2 separate regions of the Homo sapiens genome follow, and region 1 is linked to region 2. The links come from fine-mapping of genetic effects on gene expression. Tissue or cell type: esophagus muscle. Region 2 holds a variant in brackets; the other region holds the start of a gene. All regions are shown on one strand. Distances are between the middles of the regions.

Region 1 (11,466 bases), 21 kb before region 2:
GTGACACAAATACAAACAGAATGTGGGGGAGGCAGGATATGGAATAGACTTAACTCCAAAGCCCACCCAGTTCAATGAAGGGAATGTGATGCAACAATCCCTGTATGCAGAAATAGTAAATTTGACAACATTAAACACATTTAGTCAAACCTTAAAAAAGGTTTCATCACATTTTATGTTTGGTTTGAAAGGTGCTCCCATAGGACACAACTATGTTTAGTAGGCTAACTTTGCTTTTACAATTTTCTCCTTTCTGATTTAGAAAATAAAGACAAAGAAACCATCCCAATCTGACAGCCTAGAGGAAATCCGAAGGCTGAAACGAGAGTCCCCTAATGATGTAAACACTCCCTTTAATAAAGCACAAAAATAGTGTCAAGTTTTCATGAGTGGTGACATGTTCTGAGTGTAAAACAATGTTAGTCTATCAGGAACTAAGCTGCTCAGCTCTAGAAGATTCTATGTTGCATGGCCAGTGTCACTCTAAGGGCCAAGGCGACAGGGAGGCAGATCTGCTGCTGTGGCTCTTGTCTATATGGTCACCTTGCTGCCAGTAAGCTAATTTCATGAGAAACTTGATCTAACTCAAAAGTTGTGCGTGTGGTCTCTTCCCACAAATCTAGAGTCCACCTGCAACCCTGAACTGGGTAACATTGAACAAATTACTTACCTTTTGTTCTTTAATCTTAATTTTTGAAACTGTAATAAAATATATATAAATTCATCATAACTGTTTCAATTAGTACAGTTCAGTGGTATTAAGTACATTTGCATTGTGCTACCATCACCACTCTCCATCTGCAGAACCCTTTTTCATCTTGTAAAATTGAAACCCTGTACCCATTATACAGTAATTCTTCATCTCCTCTGCTACCATCATTTTACTTTCTGTTTTGATTAATCTGACTACTCTAGGTACCTTATATTAAGTGGAATCACACCGTACTTGTCCTTTTGTGACTGGCTTATTTCACTTAGCACCGTGCCCTCAAGGTTCATCCATGTTATAGGATGTGTTGAACTTTTTTCCTTTTTTAGGGCTGAACAATATCCCATTGCATGTATATACCACATTTTATGTATCAACCCATCCATTGATAGACACTTGGGTAGTTTCCACTTTTTCACTATTGTGAATAATGCTGCTATGAACATAGGTATACAAATATCTCTTTGAGACCCTACTTTCAATTCCTTGGATACACATCCAGAAGTAGAATTGCTGGATCACATGGTAATTTTGTCTTTAGTTTTTTGAGAATCCACCCTACTGTTTTCCATAGTGGTTGCACCATTTTACATTCACACTAATGGTGTACAAAAAGCTTCCACTTTCTCCACACCCTTGCCAACACTTACTACTTTCTGTTTTTCTGATAGTAGCACCCTACTGGATTTGAGGAGCTTTTTATTTGCATTTCCCTAAAATTGGTGATGTTCAACATCTTTTCACATACTCACTGGCCATCTGTATGTCTTCTTTGGAAAAATGTCTGTTTAAGTCCTTTGTCCATTTTAAAATTGAATTTTGTGTTGTTGTTGAGTTGTAGGAGTTCTTTTTATGTTCTAGATATCAATCTCTCATCAGATATATAATTTACAAATATTTTCCCCCATTCCATGGGTTGCCCTTTCACTCTGCTGACTGTATCCTTTGATAACTACCTAATTTTTTTCTCACCTGAAGTCTGGGCATCACAGCAGCTCTATTGGGATGATTAGAAGATAACATACAGAAAATACAGTGTCAAACAAAGTTCCTCTCTCTTTGTAGAGGAGAAAGTCCCTCCCACCATTACAGGAGTGGGATGAAGAGTAGGGGCAACTAGCAAGGATTCCACCAGTCAGTAGAGTTTGAGATCAATAGACTTAGGTTTGAAGATGACCTTTGCCACTTCCTAGAGAGACATTTTGTTCTCTGGGCCTGAATTTTTTACTGGAGGTGCCACCACAAATGGTGTTGTTAAGAACTGAGAATGGGTGTCGTTAAGGACTGAAAGTGCCAAGCACTGAGCAGCTAGCTCCTCTATCCATCTATTCATACACTCAACAAATACCCAGAGTGCTCACTGTGTGCCAGACAGTGTTAAGTGCTAAGGAAACAGACAAGAACTGCTATGCTTACAGGCCTTACATTCTATTGGAGGAACGGGAACAGACACAAAATGTATAGTCTGTTAGACGGCAGAAAGGGCTATGACGAAAAATAATGCAGGGAAAGGGAAGAGCAGAGTAGGCAAGTGGTCCTAGAAGCCCACTAAGGAGGAACTTGGGCAAAGGCTGAAGGAGTTGAGGGAGCAGGCCATACAGTCACCTGGGCAGAGGGTTTTACAGGAGGAAGAAGCAGGGAGTGCAAAGGTCCTGAGGTGGATGTGTGCCCGTGGTGCTCTGGATGCAGCAAGGAGGTCAGGGTAGCCAGAATAGAGGTGAGATCAGAGAGGTAACAGGAGACTGAAATGACCCCTCCAGGCCATTTGTAAAGACTTGGTTTTTACTCTGAGTGAGATGGGAAGCTATTAGAACCTGGCACAATAAAAGGTGGCAGTATTATTGAAATGTCTCAACTCTAAACTTGTTTGAAAACTCCACAATTATCTTTTTAAAAATTCAGGCAACTTAAAACACTTCTGCTTTTGGATGAAATCGTATCCACTTATGGCAGTGATGATATAATTGGAATTTCTGGGCTAGCACACTGTTACCAATGATACCAGAGCTGTGGCTCAGGAGTTTATTCATCCATTTATTCAGACTTGAGGATAAAAGACAAGAGTGACACATATAAGAAGCTCAAGGATAGTGGAGGAAGACAAATATACATAAGCACAAAAAGTCACTAAAGCACCATGACAGACAACTGTATCATGTGCAAAATGACCTCACAAAACAAGGGAGGTGAACTGAGCTTTCAGGTGTGTATGTTGGGTAGGGGACAGAGGGAAGTACCTCCTTTTGGCTGAAAGGACACTGCATGCAGAGGGAATAGCTTAAAGAAAGGCCCAGATGTTGAAATATGATGGCGGTTTCTGGAATATGCAGGTGGTTTAATAGGGCTGAAGAAGGGATGATGTTATAGCTAAAATCAGCATTGGTCTGATCATGGGAGACTTTGCAGGCTATGCTAAGAAAATATACTTTATCTGAGGGAAATGGAGAACATTTGGAGGGTTTTAAGGGTGACAGTAGCATGACTACATTTGCACTTTGCAAGAATAATTTTGACAGCAGTGTGGAGCATGCACTTGAGAGGTGTAAGGGGAGGGTGGAAGGAAAAGACAATTCAAATATGAGATAAGGGCCAGAGGCAACACAGTAGCAATTGGGAGAAAAAGGAGACTAAGAACAAATAGACATGTAGGTGACACAAAGTAAGAGCCCAATAAATAAGTTATATGTCAGGAGAGATCTAGAATAATTTTCCAGTTTCTAGTGACTATTTTGCACTACGTACACCATTTTGGAGGGGTAAGTAACCCCTCCCTTTGAAGAGGGATGCCGTGTTGAGTTTTTTTTTTTTTTTTTTTGAGACAGAGTATTGCTCTGTCGCCAGGCTGGAGTGCAGTGGCACAATCTCGGCTCACTGCAACCTCCGCCTCCTGGGTTCAAGCGATTCTCCTGCCTCAGCCTCCCGAGTAACTGGGACTACAGGTGCCCGCCACCACGCCCAGCTAATTTTTGTATTTTTAGTAGAGACGGGGTTTCACCATGTTGGCCAGGGATGGTCTCGATCTCCCGACCTCGTGATCCGCCGGCCTCGGCCTCCCAAAGTGCTGGGATTACAGGCGTGAGCCACCGTGCCCGGCCATGTTGAGTTTCTGATATGCATTTAGGCCATGTTGAGTTTTTGATATGCATTTAAGATCTCTGTGTGAAATTCAATTAAAGATGTACAGACAGCTGAACAAATGGGTCTGAAAATCAGGGAAATAAATTTGCGTTGGGGATTTAAATTTGAGACTATAAATCATGAAAGTGGTGAGATTGTCTAGGGACAATATTTACCATGAAGAAAACATTACTAGAATAGAATCTTGAAGAACATCAACATTTAAGGAGTAAAATGAGGTACAGACCTTGCTCACCAATGTGTCATTAACGCCTAGCTTGGTGCCTGGAAAAAACTGGATGCTCAATAAATGTTTGTGAGGTTATAGATCGATAGAGGAAGAGAGGGAGGTAGAAGTATTTGTCATAAAAATAGGAGAACTTGAAGACAAATAAGGTTCTGGAAGAAAGGAAAGTTTCAAGAGAGTGCATTGGAGAATGTCAAATGCTACCTTGATCAAAATGAAGACTAAAGAGAGTTCCCTTGATTTAACAACCAGACCGAGAATATAGCAGGGTCCTAGCAAAGAGAAGTTAACGCCTGAACTGACACTTGAAGGACAATCATTTTACAAACAAGAGGAAACTTACTACGTGCCTAATTAACCATGTCAGGTACACTATGGTTAATTCCACAAATGCTTGTTAGTTAACGAGGAGACTGGCAGATGATAACGCTGCAGACCAGGACCCTCCCCACCCTTATATTCCCCTACCTCAGCGCAAACTCTTTCCCCCAGCACCACCGGCCTCTTATCCAGGCAGTCCACGCCGGCCCAGGAACGTTCCCAGAACTACGGCTCCCAGCAGGACAAGCGCCAGACAAGCCTGGACTCAAGAGGATAGACTGGGCAAAAGCGCTTCTGGGAATCGTAGTTTAGGGCGCCGACCTCAAGATCCAGGCTGGGCACGCTACCCGACCAACTCCTTACTTGAGCTCTTCAGCCGAATACATCCCGAAGGAAATGCCCTGCAGCCGCCGCCAGGGCATGTTCTTGGAGATCAACATCCTCCAGGTCCGTTTTGAATTCCGACACCCCAAGAGACGTTCCACTCACCACCTGACTATTCTTAATTCAACCTCAAGCCCGGAGTCACCACGCGATTCAACGTGCGCTTGCGCGCGGAAGCGGTCGCAGGAACGACATTTACGTGGATGAGATCACTTCTACATGGGGGGGGAACAAATAGTTGTACGACTCTCTGCTCGCTCTTTTGTTTTGAAAACAATCAAAGATATATAAGACATCAAAATAATCATTTAGGAAAATTCCTCCGAGGCAAATCGGGTGTATAGAGCTTTTAGCTTCCGTGACGAAGTCTTTCAAACCATGAGCTTGCAACCTCCCATTTTATGATTGCTTTCGTCTTCTTCCGCTTCAGCCAATAGCGGAGCTGTTCCCTGCTCCCCGCCCACTGCGCCCCACCTTCCTGAAGGTCGAGGCACGCTTTCCCAACATGCTCTGCAGAGAAATCAAAGATGGCGGTTGTATCTGCTGTTCGCTGGCTGGGCCTCCGCAGCAGGCTTGGCCAGCCGCTGACGGGTCGGCGGGCGGGTTTGTGTGAACAGGCACGCAGCTGCAGGTAAGAGACGCTTAGGGTATCCGCGAAGAAGACCGCGGAGTCACCTTAGTCCTATGTTTCCCAGCTGGCTGTGGAAGTAGGCACGATGAAATGGTTTGCTCATGCGCGCCCTTAACGGTCGCGTGCCCTTAAGACCAGGTACGCGGAGGTGGCCCTTTGAAATAGGATTCGCAACGCATTTATTCATTAGAGAAATACTTATTGGTTGCTTGCAATATTCTGTAGTTAACACCATCCGCAAAGCTAGGACCCTGCTCTCATGAAGCTTGCGTTCCAGTGAGTGTGGCTATTAGCAACACTACCCCAAATTAAAAATTATCCGCCATTACTCATTTTAACCCAATCAGGAGGAGCGAGGAGAACGTACAAGATCTTCCCAAATAAAAGGCAGTCTCTGGTCGCCACCGTGGGGACTTTGGCTAAAGAAGTTATCAGGTTTTCGTAAAAGCAGAAAAGTCTAAAAGATCTGACTATGCCCTTTTGATCTGTGATAGTTATAGCTTGGAACATGTATGACCTATCTGTGTAATTTTTTTTTCACTCAGTACAAACAGTGGCATTGTGGGAATATGAGAGGCAGTAATTTGTAGTGAAAACTTGCTAAAAGCCTAATTTTAGGTTTAGTGTTTGCCATTCACTTAATTGGATGATAATAGACAGATTTCCTCATCTGCAGACTAGAGTTGGTAATAACCATCCGAAAAGTTTGTGAGGTATAAGTGGGGTATGTAATTTACAATATGTTTTTATATGTACTCTCCCTTAGTTCCCCTCAAGAAAGAGAAACCACTCCATCTGATACTGCAGAAACCTTTGTGCTGCCATTCAATGCCAGTCCTCCGTTTCCTGGTAGCCATCGTTAGCATTTTTCTACTCATTTTCTTTGCCTGAAGCAGAATCTCTTCCTCAGCATCCGTTCTCAAAATAACTGTGATCTCTGTTTTAAGGTCATGAGAAACAAATAGTGTGACTTGAAAGAGTTGATCTCAGAAACTTGAAAGAGTTGATCTCTTTCTGAAATGTCCTTAACGTAGAGGGGTATTCTTGTTTTAAATGATACCTGAAACCAGATACTACTGGAGGAAGTATCTGTCTGTGCAATCACATCTTGACAATTTTCTGAATGTTACTGATGCCATTTAGTAAGGGGAAACACAAGATAATACTAACCGTCACATTATCTGTGGTGTGTTGACTGTGTTTTTAGTGTGATCAGAACACTTAAACAGAACACTTAAAAACTCAGTCATGGGCCAATGATTCTATATTTTGGTTTAAAAAGGATTTCATATTGAACCTCTGAAAATAGAAAATATCAGCAATTCCAAGTCTAAATCAGGCCTTATGTATTTGGTACATTCTTGATTGTTGAAAGAAGTGGAATGAGAAGCCATGGGTCATCTTCCCTATGTTGTAATTGCTTTAAGTGAGGTAGTCCTTTCTGATCAGGGCAGTATCTGTATAGAAGCAAGAGCTCACTGAATTGTTCTTTTAAACATCATAGTGTTTTGGGTTCCTGAAGTTGAAAGTTCTTCATTTCAAACCAGATTGTTCAAGTGCTATTAAAAACTTTCCTCCCTCTCTGCCATTTATGTAATGAGATTGCTTGCTTCCAAAACTTTTGTCTAGCCGGGCATGGTGGCATATGCCTGTAGTCCTAGTTACTCAGGAGGCTGAAGCAGGAGGGTCACTTGAGCCCAGGAGTTCAAGGGTTCAGTGAGCTATAATTGCACTACTTCACTAAAGGCTAGGCAATGGAGCAAGACCCTGTCTCTAAAAAAAAAAAAAAAAAAGTTTTGACAGTCTTGTCCATATCTTGTATCCATTCCTTAATGATATTGAACATGTGTACAGACTGTCTTCTCAGCGTTCATTGACATGAGTTATCCAGTTTAATCCGTGATAATTGGAGAATTTGGGCTCAAAGTACACATAGGTGGAGGTGAGCTGGGTACTTCATTAATGACTATTAGATTTAAGGCTTTTGTTTTTTTGCAGATTTTATTCTGGTAGTGCAACCCTCTCAAAGGTTGAAGGAACTGATGTAACAGGTATATTTTAAAATATATTGAATTCTATTTTTATATCAACACGTTGGATTCCATTGTAGTACTAGGAAACTGATTCATGTTTTCTTTTTTACATTAGGGATTGAAGAAGTAGTAATTCCAAAAAAGAAAACTTGGTAAGTATTCTATCAGTGTTCATTCAGCAAATGGTTGAGTGCTTACTATGAGAGAAGTGTAAGGGTTAGGTAAGGAGACAGTGACAGGAAGAGCAATAGGAGAGCATTCTTGAAGAGAGTAGCTGAGCGGGGAGAAGCTAGGAGTTTAAAGGACAAAAAATGGAAAGGTGGAGAATAGTGAGTGAATGAGCAATGAGATTTACTTAAAAGAACAATTGAAAGAGATTTTGAATTAGTGTGGGTTACTATTTACGTGGTTAATAATACATGGTTATACATGAACATCATCATTAGAATAATTTTTTTCAAGGAAGTTCTCTCATATGATTCAAGAGCAGACAGTTACTGTCTTTATTATCTCTAATGAGGTAAAAATAAAGTAAATGGTGTGGACAGCAAAATTTAGCTTTTTTATTCACTGGATATATCCTTGAACAAATTGCCTCATCTCATTTATTCAACATTTGTTGAATATGCAGGAATTAAAACTTCACAAAAGTGCTTGTTACAGTGTAGTCCTATTGAACGCATTTAGTGGCCCCTCAAAAAGCTAGGTCTTAAAATTATGTGACCTAAAGACTCGGGTTCGCCAGGCGCGGTGGCTTACGCCTGTAATCCCAGCACTTTGGGAGGCCGAGGCGGGCGGATGATGAGGTCAGGAGATTGAGACCATCCTGGCTAACACGGTGAAACCCCGTCTCTACTAAAAATACAAAAAAATTAGCCGGATGTGGTGGGGGGTCGCCTGTAGTCCCAGCTACTCGGGAGGCTGAGGCAGGAGAATGGCGTGAACCCGGGAGACGGAGCTTGCAGTGAGCCGAGGTCGCGCCACTGCACTCCAGCCTGGGCGACAGAGCAAGACTCCATCTCAAAAAAAAAAAAAGACTTGGGTTCATTTAAAAAGACTTTTTTAAGAACTTTATTAATCTGAACTGTGTGATTATTTTAGGGAGGCCAGGGAGCCCAGTGATGTCAATGCATAGGTAACTGGGATCATAAAAGAAGTGCAAATTAAAACTTACCGTATTGGCAGAGAGAGGATTTGAAGAAATACGTTTGTTTATGGGACAGTAAATTGGAACAGCTCTTTGGAGGGAAATTTGGCAGAATCAGAATTGGAAATGTGCGTACCTTACTGGTTAGCCACTTTGGAGGAACATTTGCATATATACATGGACAAGACTGTTCTTTATTACTTGGGAATAGTAACAGGTTGAAACAGCCTGAATGCCCATTGAAAAGTGAATGGATAATTTTAAAAGGTTATCATACAATAACTTTTTACATTGAAAGGAATTAATTAGCTCTATATTTAATAACATGGATAGTGCAGCCAAACTTATGTAGACACATGCAGAATGACAGTGTGTATACGTTTTTTAGGGAGATGTTTATGTGTGAAAATACCTTTAAAAGTTCTGGAAATACAAATACCAAATTCATCGTGGAGAGGGGTCACAAGATGACACCAGACACTTTAGGTTAACGTGTAATGTTCTAGTTTATTTTTTTAAGATAATGTATGATACCTTTTAAAGTAACCCTTTAAAGAAAGAGAATTAGTGAGTAATCTGAATGTCATCATTTTTTCACTGCCATTTGTTCAATATGTTAGGAAAGTTTGCTAACTTGATAAGACTTAAATAGGGCAATAAAAGATCTGCTGAAGGAATGCTGACAGATGAGAGAATGTGTCGTTATCACACTTGCTGAAATTACATAAATGTGACTTCTAAACGTGGATAGAAAATTTAGTGGATATTATGTACATCAGGGAATTAGTTTTGATGAAATATAAAATTTCCTGTACTTTTGTTTTTCTCAGATGACTTATAGTCTTAAGAATGTTATGTTAAACTTTATTTAGAAAAATACTCTTGGTATAATTCCCTTTTGGAAAGGAAACACATTAAATCTAACATAGGAGCACAAATATATTTGAGATCAAATTATCTTGTCTGTCATTTATTCCAGTGAAGCCTTTTCTAATAGTTCAGTAAAGGTCTCTACTCAGAGGTGCAGTGGACAGCTGGCCTGCAATTCTTACCATAACGTTATATATGGTTGAGAGGTTCTAAACCAGGAGGTTGCATCAGAATTATCTGGGAATTCAGTAAGAGTGTGTGTGACAGTCCTCCATGGATCTTGGGAGGCTTTGATGCAATAGGTCCAGAGTGAAGCCTGTGGTTTATTCTCCTATAACTGAATCAAGAGCTACCAATTAGGATAGTAAAGGCAACAGTAGTCCCGAAAGCTGCAGTAAGAATCCATAGGAAAGTGGGTAGAGGAAGTAGGCCAGATAGTTTTATGAGGGCGGGATGGAAATCACTAGCCCTGGGTTATGGCATTATGCACCAGGCCAGAGAGGACAGGCAAAGAGAGGAACATGTACCAACTAGGGGAAAGAACCAGCAGTTTTCTTAATTTCTAATTTATTCTAGTGACCTTGTGACATAACCAGCTTCAGATGAGATCTGCACTATGTTATTGGCCAGTACACTGAGAGTAGAATCACTTGTTCGGTTTGTGGCTATGAAGAGCCCTGATGAGGATTAACTTGTGGTTCTTATTTTTAGGGATAAAGTAGCCGTTCTTCAGGCACTTGCATCCACAGTAAACAGGGTAAGTAGGATTTTGTGTTTTTTTTTAACCTAAAACTTGGCTAATAACACACTTTTTAACTCGGCTAATAACACATTTAATACTCATACCTCGTCATTACTCAGAATTAAACTGTTGTGCGTCTAGAAAGTTTCTTTAAAATTGTCTAGGCCGGGCGCGGTGGCTCACGCCTGTAATCCCAGCACTTTGGGAGGCCGAGGCAGGTGGATCACAAGGTCAGGAGATCGAGACCATCCTGGCTAACACAGTGAAACCCCGTCTCTACTGAAAATATAAAAAATTAGCCAGGCGTGGTGGCAGGCACCTGTAATCCCAGCTACTTGGGAGGCTGAGGCAGGAGAATGGCGTGAACCCAGGAGGCAGAGCTTGCAGTGAGGAGAGATCGCGCCACTGCACTCCAGCCTGGGCGAAAGAGCGAGACTCTGTCTCAAAAAAAAAAAAATTGTCTAATCCAGCTGAGCCAGGTGGCTCATGAATGTGATCCCAACACTTTTGGAGGCCAAAGTAGGAAGACCACTTGACATCAGGAGTTCAAAACCAGCTTGGGCAATGTAGCAAGACCCCCATCTGTTTTTTGTTTGTTTGTTTGTTTTGTTTTGTTTGAGACAGAGTTTTGCTCTTGTTGCCTTAGGCTGCAGTGCAATGGCGCGATCTCGGCTCACCGCAACCTCCACCTCCTGGGTTCAAGCAATTCTTCTGCCTCAGCCTCCTGAGTAGCTGGGATTACAGGCATGTGCCACCACGCCCAACTAATTTTGTATTTTAAGTAGAGACGGGGTTTCTCCATGTTGGTCAGGCTGGTCTCGAACTCCTGACCTCAGGTGATCCACTTGCCTTGGCCTCCCAAAGTGCTGGGATTACAGGTGTGAGCCACTGCGCCAAACTTTTTTTTTTTTTTTTTTTTAATTTATTTTTTGAGACGGAGTCTTGCTGTGTCGCCCAGGCTGAAGTGCAGTGGCACAGTCCCGGCTCACTGCAAGCTCTGCCTCCCAGGTTCATGCCATTCTCCTGTCTCAGCCTCCCGAGTAGCTGGGACTACAGGCGCCCGCCGCCACGCCTGGCTATTTTTTTGTATTTTTAGTAGAGACGGGGTTTCGCTGTGCTCACCAGGATGGTCTCCATCTCCTGACCTCCTGATCCACCCGCCTTGGCCTCCCAAAGTGCTGGGATTACAGATGTGAGCCACAGTGCCCGGCCTTTTTTTTTTTTTTTTAAGAATAAAATTATTGGCCAGGAGCAGTGGCTCACAT
Region 2 (9,660 bases):
TCAGGTGATCCTTCAGTCTCCTAAAGTTTTGGGATTACTGACCACTGCACCTGGCCAAATGTGGATTATTTATGTAGAGAACTTTACATTTTTAAAAGTGCATAGGCAGTAGGTTGCAGTTAAACCTTGCTTTCCAGAGTATCACTTCCTGAAGCCCTGCTCTGGTTGGCCCTCTGCCTCTCCAGCCCCAGCTCTTGAGGCAGCAGGCTACAGAGCCAACACTGACCTCTGCAATGCCAACCAAGCCTGTATTGCTCTACGTCAGCCTCATCCCAGACCTTGGTTTATAAATAAAGACAAGATTTATTCTTGTAAGAAGTCTTGCCAGGTGCAGTGGCTCATACTTGTAATCCCAGCACTTTGGGAGGCCGAGGCGGGTGGATCATGAGGTCAGGAGATCGAGACCATCCTGGCTAACATGGTGAAATCCCGTCCCTACTAAAAAAAATACAAAAAATTAGCTGGGCGTGGTGGCACGCGCCTGTAGTCCCAGCTACTCCGGAGGCTGAGGCAGGAGAATTCCTTGAACCCAGGAGGTGGAGGTTGCAGTGAGCCAAGACCACGCCACTGCATTCCAACCTGGGCGAGAGAGCGAGACTCTGTCTTAAAAAAAAAAAAAAAAAGAAGTCTTAGTTTGCTTGGGTGAGTGTTAGGCATTAACTATATGTTGTTTATCTTGCTTTCACCCTAATTATGACAGTTTATCTGTATGGATCAAGCCAGATGTAGTCTCTGAGCAAATAGGCTGTGTTGTTTGGTTTTCCTCTTTCTGTCTGAGGACCAGGCCATACAGGGAACTGGCTTCATCTTGTCTCCACGCTGTCACTTGTTGCTTTGAGAGTCAACTTGGCCTTTCATCTGATTTGCACTTAAGAAATTAACTGTATAGGTGTAAGCGTAACTGGGCTTCCTCTTTGCCTTCTGCTGGATCTATGTTTCCTTTATTTTTCTGAGTTCCCTTTGCCTTTCTGATTTTGAGTAGTCTGACTGGGAAATGCATTCCATTGCCTTAACTTTTATTTCTTTTGATGATTATTCATTTCAGGAAGAGGAAAATGATGAGACATCTAGGAGGAAAGCTGGTCATCAGTTTGGAGTTACATGGCGGTATGTCACACGTAATTAGAACCTTGAATTACAGTGTCTTACAGTGCATGGAATATGCCCCATCACCCTGTGAAGATGTTTTCTTGTGATGTTCTAAAATAATTGATTTTTATTGTGCAATATAAATTTCACTATTTGTATTCATACACATTTAGACCGTTTTTCAATAAGGTCTTTATCTCCATTCAACAACACAAGAATCTGTTGAGACTTTGACCCTTTTTTTTCCCTCATCTGTTTAACTCAGCATAACTTTCATATGGTATGGTTCCTTTGGTAGTTTCATTAACAGTGCTACCTTGGAATATATACCTCTAATTCTGAAAGATTTAATACTTTTGTTTACTAAAAATATCATGGACACTAGAGTGTACTGCTAAATTAAGACCACTGACAACATGTAGACATACACAGCAGTTTGAATGAAAGGTAATAACTTAATTATATTGGAGAATTAGCTGGGTGTCTAAAAGGAAGACACTTCATGTGAATGTCTGGAGAGGGAAAGCTACCATGATTATCTAAAATTGTTATTGAAGTGATGAATTTGATAGGATGAAAGATTAAATTCCTTGGGGTAGGCTGGACGCAGTGCCTCACACCTGTAATCCTGGTGCCGTGGGAGGCCGAGGCAGGTGGATCACTTGAGGTCAGGGGTTTGAGACCAGCCTGGCCAACATGGTGAAACCTCATCTCTACTAAAAATACAACAATTAGCTAGGCGTGGTGGCACGTGCCTGTAATTCCAGCTACTCGAGAGGTGGAGGCAGGAGAATCACTTAAACCCAGGAGGTGGAGGTTATGGAATGAGAGAAGAGTTAAAAGTACATATGCTAGAATATGACCAGAAGGATCCAAAAGAAACCGTTTTGCCTCTGGGAAGTAGTATCTGAAGATTGAAGAAAGGTGAGGAAACTTTACTAGGGACTTTGTCATACAGTTGCTTCTTGTTTTTAATAGCACAGATATTTATATACTTGTTTATAAACTTTTCATTTTCAATTGTAATTCTGCCACTTAACCTGCGAAGCCCTGACAACACATTAAGATCGTTAAGTCTTGATTTTCCCCATTTTCAAAATGATAATAACCATAATACCCTGTAAGAATTGAGATAATGTATAGAAAGTACTTGGCACATTGCCTAGAACATAATAAACCGTCAGTAAATGGTGGTAGCTCTCATTGGTATTTCTTATTGCCTGGGTTCACATTTACTCTCTTGTGTCTAGAGCAAAAAACAACGCTGAGAGAATCTTTTCTCTAATGCCAGAGAAAAATGAACATTCCTATTGCACAATGATCCGAGGAATGGTGAAGGTACATTTGTTTTATTTATTTTTGTCTTTCATTTCCACCGATCAGGGTGTTTCAGCCTCAGAACTACTAACATTTTGGGTCAGGTAATTTGTTGTGGGGTCTGTCCTGTGCATTGTAGGATGTTAGTAGCTCCCTGGCTTCTACCCACTGGATGTGAGTAGTGTACTCCTCCCCCACTTTCAGTTGTGACAAATAAAAATATGTTTAGGCATTACCAGTGGATAGAAAATCCCACTGCACTAGAGTATGAGCTTCATGAGAACAGGAGCCTGATCTATTGAGCCTGAGCTATATTACCAAACTCTAGGACAGAAATGTGCAAGGACTTCTTAAGTAAATGAATTTGATGATGCTTAATTTTTCCTTTTCCAGCACCGAGCTTATGAGCAGGCATTAAACTTGTACACTGAGTTACTAAACAACAGACTCCATGGTGAGTTTGAGAACTCCCCTCTGTCCCTTTCTCCATTTCCTTCTTTTAATTGTCTGTGTGAAGGCTTTGGATCGTGCCTCAGTCATTGGCCTACACTTTACCTTTTCCTGAGGCGTAGATGATTGAAGCAAGAGTAGAGATCCAGAGAGGAGAGTAGTTTTCCAGTTTTGTGGACATGTGATTAGTCAAGGGACACATAGGAATGACTGCTTTGCCTTAAACTCAGCCATTTAGGGATTAATCTTCAACCCCAAATTTTATCATTTTATTATTTTACAGCTGATGTATACACATTTAATGCATTGATTGAAGCAACAGTATGTGCGATAAATGAGAAATTTGAGGAAAAATGGAGTAAAATACTGGTAAGGAGGAATCCTCAGTTTATTTTTTAATAGGGCTTAAATACTCTTTACCAGAAATACATGGGCTGGCCAGGTGTGGTGGCTCAAACCTGTAATACCAGCACTTTGGGAGGCCGAGGCGGGCAGATCACCTGAGGCCAGGAGTTGGAGACCAGCCTGGCCAACATGGTGAAACCCGTCTCTACTAAAAGTACAAACAATTAGCTGGGCGTGGTGGTGCACGCCTGTAATCCCAGCTACTTGGGAAGCTGAGGCAAGAGAATCTATTGAACCCGGGAGGCGGAGGTTGCTGTGAGCAGAGATCGCACCACTGCACTCCAGCCTGGGCAACAGAGCAAGACTCCGTCTCAAAAAAAAAAAAAAGAAAAAGAAACAGAAGTACATGGGCTGGAGACAGCATTTATGAGCATGTGTATGGCAGTCACTGTGTAGCAGTTACCTGTTCACTACCCTTTCCGCAGCCCTGGGACTCAGCTGTGTCTGGCACATAAGAAGAAAAAGTTGCTTGACCGAGAGTATAGAGCTAGAATTCTGGACCATTTTATTCATTTATTTTTCATAATAGTTTTTCTGTTACAAAGTAATGCATATTTGCTGTCAAATCCTATCAGGTGTAATTTCAAAAAGTTGAAATCACTGGATTGATTCTCGCCTAGTAACTTAAGAATAGAAACGGCTGGGCACGGTGGCTCATGCCTATAATCCCAGCACTTTGAGGCTGAGGCGGGTGGATTACCTTAGGTCAGGAGTTTGTGACCAGCCTGACTAACATGGTGAAACCCCGTCTCTACTACAAAAATACAAAAATTAGCCGGGCATAGTGGTGCTCGCCTGTAGTCGCAGCTACTCAGGAGGCTGAGGCAGGAGAATCACCTCAGCCCACGAGGCAGAGGTTGCAGTGAGCCAAGATCGCACCACTGCACTCCAGCCTGGGCAAGAAGAGCGAAACTTTGTCTCAAAAAAAAAAAAAAACCAACCACTTTTTTATATCATACTAGTCTATTATTTTTGCGTCTTTTCTTGGAAAACTCTCCTAGGTAGAAGACTGAAGACAGTTGACCACCTCTATCAAGTGGGGTGGGTGTTTGAATTAGCAGGCTTCTTTAAAAGGCAGAATCATGGAACCTGCTAATTAATAAACAGTTCTTAAAAGAGGGATATAGTTACTAACCTGCTTTAAACATAAGCAAGAAAGCTAAATTCTTTACTTTGTATGAAACATAGATTATTGGACAGATTACCCAGGCATGAAAGATACTTCTTGTTTTTTATTCACCTAGGAGCTGCTAAGACACATGGTTGCACAGAAGGTGAAACCAAATCTTCAGACTTTTAATACCATTCTGAAATGTCTCCGAAGATTTCATGTGTTTGCAAGATCGCCAGCCTTACAGGTTTTACGTGAAATGAAAGCCATTGGAATAGGTGAGGATGCGCCCTTGAGTTCTCTGAGGACAGAGACTGTGCCAGCCAGAGGTTTCAGGGCTACATAAGCAAAGAGCTTTAAATTATTCTTGTGCTTACATAATATGTTGGAAATTTTCTTTCCATGTTTGGCACATTTACTTACATGTACTTATTATAGTGGGAGTGCCTTTATCATCTTAGTGTTCATTAGTATTTTAGGTACTTTGTTTATGGATCTGTTGAATCTGAGGAGAAGTGATTGCTTTGAGTTAGCTAGTTTTAAATTCATGACA[T/C]TTTCCCAACATAATTAGGTATTTGAACCTAAGTGTGTGCTAGTGTATTGTATATTTTTCATTAATTACTTTATTGAAAGTTGCTTTGGGAATCAATTCACTTCAATATATTTTACTGTTCTCAGTGAAGAATGTGACTAATAAGTATTTGGACTTTCAAAAAGTGATACAGTCTTTGTGATAGTTTTTTACCTTTACATTAATGAGTTGGAAAATAACTTTGTTCAAAGGAATAGAAATGCATATTTTGCTTAAATATTAACAATATGTTTTTAATTCAGTGTGTCTCAGTAAACTATGTTTTGGATTGCTGTGTTTTTACCTCATTGTTTATTTTTTCTGTCTACCTGGTAATTTGAGAACCCTCGCTTGCAACATATCACCATATTATTCGCCTGTTTGATCAACCTGGTATGTATGGCCTTAAATTGTGTTAATTTATATAGAAAATTGACCAGCTTTCTTGAGTTTATGTGATTAATTGTTGTAGTTATCTTCTCTGCATATGAATTAAGAAGAGAGAATTTGTAAATTAACCTGTACAGCCTGAGCAGAAAGTTGTGGTTTTTTTAGATACAGGATCTTGCCCATTGCAGCCTTGAACTCCTGGGCTCAAACAGTCCTCCCTCCTCAGCCTCCTGAGTAGTTAGGATTACAGATGCCCACCAGCATGCCTAGCTGATTTTTTTTTTTTTTTTTTGGACAGGGTCTTACTACCTAAAATTATTCTTGAGGGTAGCAATCTTGTTTGTGGTCTAAAACTTGAGCTGGAGGGGAGAGGGTTATGGATTGTACTGGCAGTGATGTTGTACAAACAGGAATTGGGTAGAATATATTTTGGTTGAAATTCCTTTTGTTCTCTGGAGCTGTGCTATTTAACACCATAGCCACTAGCCACATGTGGCCAGTTAATTAAAATTAAGTAAAATAATAAATTATTTTGTCACATTGGTGCTCAGTAGCCATGTGTCTAGTGGCTACCATGTGTCGTGATGCAGATTCAGAACATTTCCATCTTTGCCAAAAGTTTGTGGACGTTTCTGCTCCAGAGGAAAGGTAAACTTATTGTGAAGCGTTTTGGGAGGACCTCAAGGCTCCATGCGTTGTCCACTTTTAGGTCAGTTCCAGTGGGAGCTCTGCTCTGTAGTAGATGGACTTTGAAGAGAGACACACCTGAGCTGAGATGTCCACTCTACCATTTATTTACCAGCTATGTCAAAGCGACTAGATACCTACCTGAGGAATAGCAGCAGGGTGTGGTAGTTAAATGAGTTCCACACTGTGTCTGCTACTGTGCTTGGAGGGCACATATGAGGCACTCAAAATCTTTTGGTTCTTGTCCATTATCCCCAGCCTGAGAAATAACCCTTGAGTTCAGAATTGACAGTTCTAGTCATTCTTTCTTGTGGATAGACTATAAAAATTACAGAAGGGAAGTTGTTTCTCTCTGGTTTGGAGGACTAATTTTGTAAAATCCATATCCTCACCTGTATAGGCAAATTTTATCTTTAGGAAAAGGAACCAGTTAATTGACTATACCTTGGAAACAGGTAAACAGTTTCCATAATTGTGTCCCCTAAAATTTTACTCAACCTTGGTGAGATTGTGATGGAGCTAGTATTTCTGACTCCAAAGTATATTCCTTTCCTCTGTAACTCTCATCACTGGTTCAATTGCTAATCAAAGTCAGATGTACTTACATTTCCTAAGTAACAGCCAGGACTGGGGGATGGGGGTTCTGGGGGAGCTGTGTTGGTTTGTCTTATGTATATAAATTTGCCTGTCTGCAGCAGTAGTTTTGGCTTACGCCTGTAATCCCAGCAATTTAGGAAGCCAAGGCAGGAGGATTGCTTGAGCCCAGGAGTTTGAAACCAACATAGAGAGACCTCCATGTCTACTAAACATGAAAAAAGTAGCTGGGCATGGTGGCGCACCCCTGTAGTCCCAGCTACTCAGGAGTGTGAGGCAGGAGGATTGCTTGTGGCCAGGAGGTTGAAGCTGCAGTAAGCTGCGTTTGCCCCACTGCACTCCAGCCTAGGTGACAGAGCAAGACCCTGTCTCAATAGTAATAATAATTTCTAGGAATTTACCCAAAAGAGAGAGCCTAAAATAACCTAGAAACAATACATTGAAAAGAGAATATTATGTAACTAATAAAATTAAGAATATTAGCAAAGGGAAGCATGCTTGAGTAAATTGTGAAACTCTATCTGTACTGTCATTACAGCTTTACTACCACAAACATACAAAACAGGTAGGGAAAGGAGTGTAGAGAAATATTTGACTGGGAATATTGCAGATGATTTTCTGACCTATTAGTGCTCAGTTCATGTTATATTTAAGAACTGCCCTGTCCATTAATTCTAGTTTACTTTTTCTTGACCTCATTCTGATTATATTTAAAGGGAACACAAATGATTACTAGCAAAAAACATTTTTAGCCGGGTGCAGTGGCTCATGCCTGTAGTCCCAGCACTTTGGGAGGCCGAGGCGGGCAGATCACGAGGTCAGGAGTTCAAGACCAGCCTGACCAACATGGGGAAACCCCTCCTCTACTAAAAATACAAAAAATTAGCCAGGCGTGGTGGCGAGGGCGTTAGTCCCAGCTGCTCGGAAGGCTGAGGCAGGAGAATCGCTTGAACCCGGGAGGCGGAGGTTGCAGTGAGCCGAGATTGTGCCATCGCACTCCAGCCAGGGCAATAATGCAAGACTCCATCTCAAAAAAAAAAAAATTTTGTTTTTCTAAGTATGCTGGTTTGGTGAGGGAGTGTGTGTTACTGTCTGCCGCCTACTTCAGTAAGTCAGGCTTCATGTGAAGAGACTAAAGGAAGGAGAAAGTCTCAGTGGAGCACATGAACAGAGACCTGTGATTATTCCAGATTTTACAGAGAATTGCTCTCTGCAGGGTATAGTGGTTCCTTTAGCAAGCATTGGCCTCCACCCAGATCTATGCGAGGACTTAGGCTGGAGGTGGAGGAAGGAGAAATGTGTCCCTTTGTATTAGGTACAGTGAGTTTGGTGGTGGTAAAGGAAGTGGATTAAACACATTTGCTTTCTTGTTCTGCAGGAGACCCTTTAAAGAGATCATCCTTCATCATTTATGATATAATGAATGAATTAATGGGAAAGAGATTTTCTCCAAAGGACCCGGATGATGGCATGTATAGAAATCACTTGTGTTTTCCTCCTCTAAAGACAGAGGGCCGGTTTACCTGAGTACCAGTTAGAGGCCTTGTGATCCCTATAGCTTAGAAGTATTTTTTTTTTTTTTTAAATAAATTTGAGTACATAGTAGGTGTATATAGCTTAGTAATATTTGCCATGGTCTTTCTGAGAAAGCCAAAATTGTGGTACATTCCTGCCTCTCTTAAGTTTTTATGTTCTTAGCTTTATCTTGCATGTTACCAGTTTTGTTGGCAGGATTTTTGTTAATGTTACTGACTTGAAAATATATTTTATCCATTGTAACCAAAGCTCTTGTGAACTTTGATTTTCAGATAAGTTTTTTCAGTCAGCCATGAGCATAGTAAGTATCATTTCTTTATTAATTTGCTATCCATTTCCTAAATTTATCTGTAACTGGAGGGTTCTCCCTGGTTCTTTTCACTTTCTAACTCTTCTGTTCATGTCTTTGCTTCTGTTTTTTCTTCTTTCTCTAAAATCTATAATTTTTTTTTTCTTTGAGATGGAGGTTCACTGTGTCCCCCATGCTGGAGTGCAGTGGCTCACCGCAACCTCTGCCTCCTGGGTTCAAGCGATTCTCCTGCCTCAGCCTCCCGAATAGCTGGGACTACAGGTGTGCGCCACCACACCTGGCTAATTTTTGTATTTTTTGTGGTAGAGATGTAGTTTCACCATGTTGACCAGACTGGTCTTGAACTCCTGACCACCTCCCAAAGTGCTGGGATTACAGGCCTGAGCCAACGCGCCTGGCCTAAAATCTGTACTTTTCAATCACATACTATCCCTACCCTTTGTTTATTGTTTACATTGACATTTTTCATGCCCCTGAACAGATAAGCTTCCATAATATTTCAGATTTGCCTATTAGTAAGTTAAAATTGATAATGGTTTTTATTTTAGTTTATGTAATCATGCTTATCATAGGAAAAATTTCAGGCAGTTTTAGGATGAACCTTGTTCCCTAAGGGTAATTTAATTGCTTTACTATTAGATTGGTGCAAAAGTAATTGTGGCCTTTGCCATTACTTTCCATGGCAAAAACCGCAATTACAAAAGCCGCTACTTTCAATAGCAAAAACCACAATTACTTTTGCACCAACCTAGTATTTAGTATGGATCCTCACAAGGTTTTTACTCTGGGTACTCAAGCGTATGTATATCCAGGCATACTTTCAGGGTGTTTTATTTGTTGGCAGCAACCAGTATTTCATAGTAAGAACCATAACTTAACTTTCCTGTGGGTAGATTTTGGAGTTATTTCATGGAGATTTTTACTAGTCCAGACTCTGCAGTGCAGGTGTCTTTTGTGCACTTGACCAGGTGTTGTTACAGGATTAATTTTTAATGGTATAATTGCTTAATTAAAATAATATTGTAATAAATTTCACAGAACTTGGGATTTGTCTCCCCCCCATTTCTTATAACTTACTTGCTGTCAACCAATAATATGTTGAATCAACATTATTTTCACAAGACACTCTACTGTTGTTATTTATTTGTGAACCACTGGCTGACAGGGTATCAGAGTGATACTTACTACTTGCATATTTTC

Which allele goes with the higher level. Alleles are on the strand shown, and positions count from the first base shown. SD is a standard deviation of normalised expression in the study named.
As copies of C replace T in region 2, the expression in esophagus muscle of the gene that starts at base 4,944 in region 1 goes up (moderate effect, 0.50 SD a copy in GTEx).

What was found.
Region 1: it holds the start of POLR1A, and the variant in region 2 is fine-mapped to the expression of POLR1A in esophagus muscle (GTEx, PIP 0.98).

What each region holds. Positions count from the first base shown.
Region 1 is chr2:86,100,943-86,112,408 of GRCh38, forward strand. POLR1A (RNA polymerase I subunit A) reads right to left here and starts at 4,944. Exons shown (of 34, transcript NM_015425.6): 1 at 4,758-4,944. The coding sequence starts at 4,834. It overlaps PTCD3 (pentatricopeptide repeat domain 3), which reads left to right and starts at 5,293. Exons shown (of 24, transcript NM_017952.6): 1 at 5,293-5,409; 2 at 7,408-7,460; 3 at 7,558-7,594; 4 at 10,171-10,216. The coding sequence starts at 5,306. It overlaps LOC124907852 (a long non-coding RNA gene), which reads left to right. Exons shown (of 2, transcript XR_007087121.1): 2 at 263-379. RefSeq lists enhancers at 4,464-4,553, 4,754-4,963, 5,344-5,603.
Region 2 is chr2:86,122,656-86,132,315 of GRCh38, forward strand. It overlaps PTCD3 (pentatricopeptide repeat domain 3), which reads left to right. Exons shown (of 24, transcript NM_017952.6): 9 at 1,046-1,107; 10 at 2,340-2,427; 11 at 2,800-2,860; 12 at 3,140-3,225; 13 at 4,506-4,650; 14 at 5,286-5,336; 15 at 7,993-8,082; 16 at 8,423-8,451. Among named protein-coding and RNA genes, the nearest start is that of SNORD94, 8.4 kb to the right of the region's middle. The variant T/C (reference allele first, on the strand shown) is at 4,926.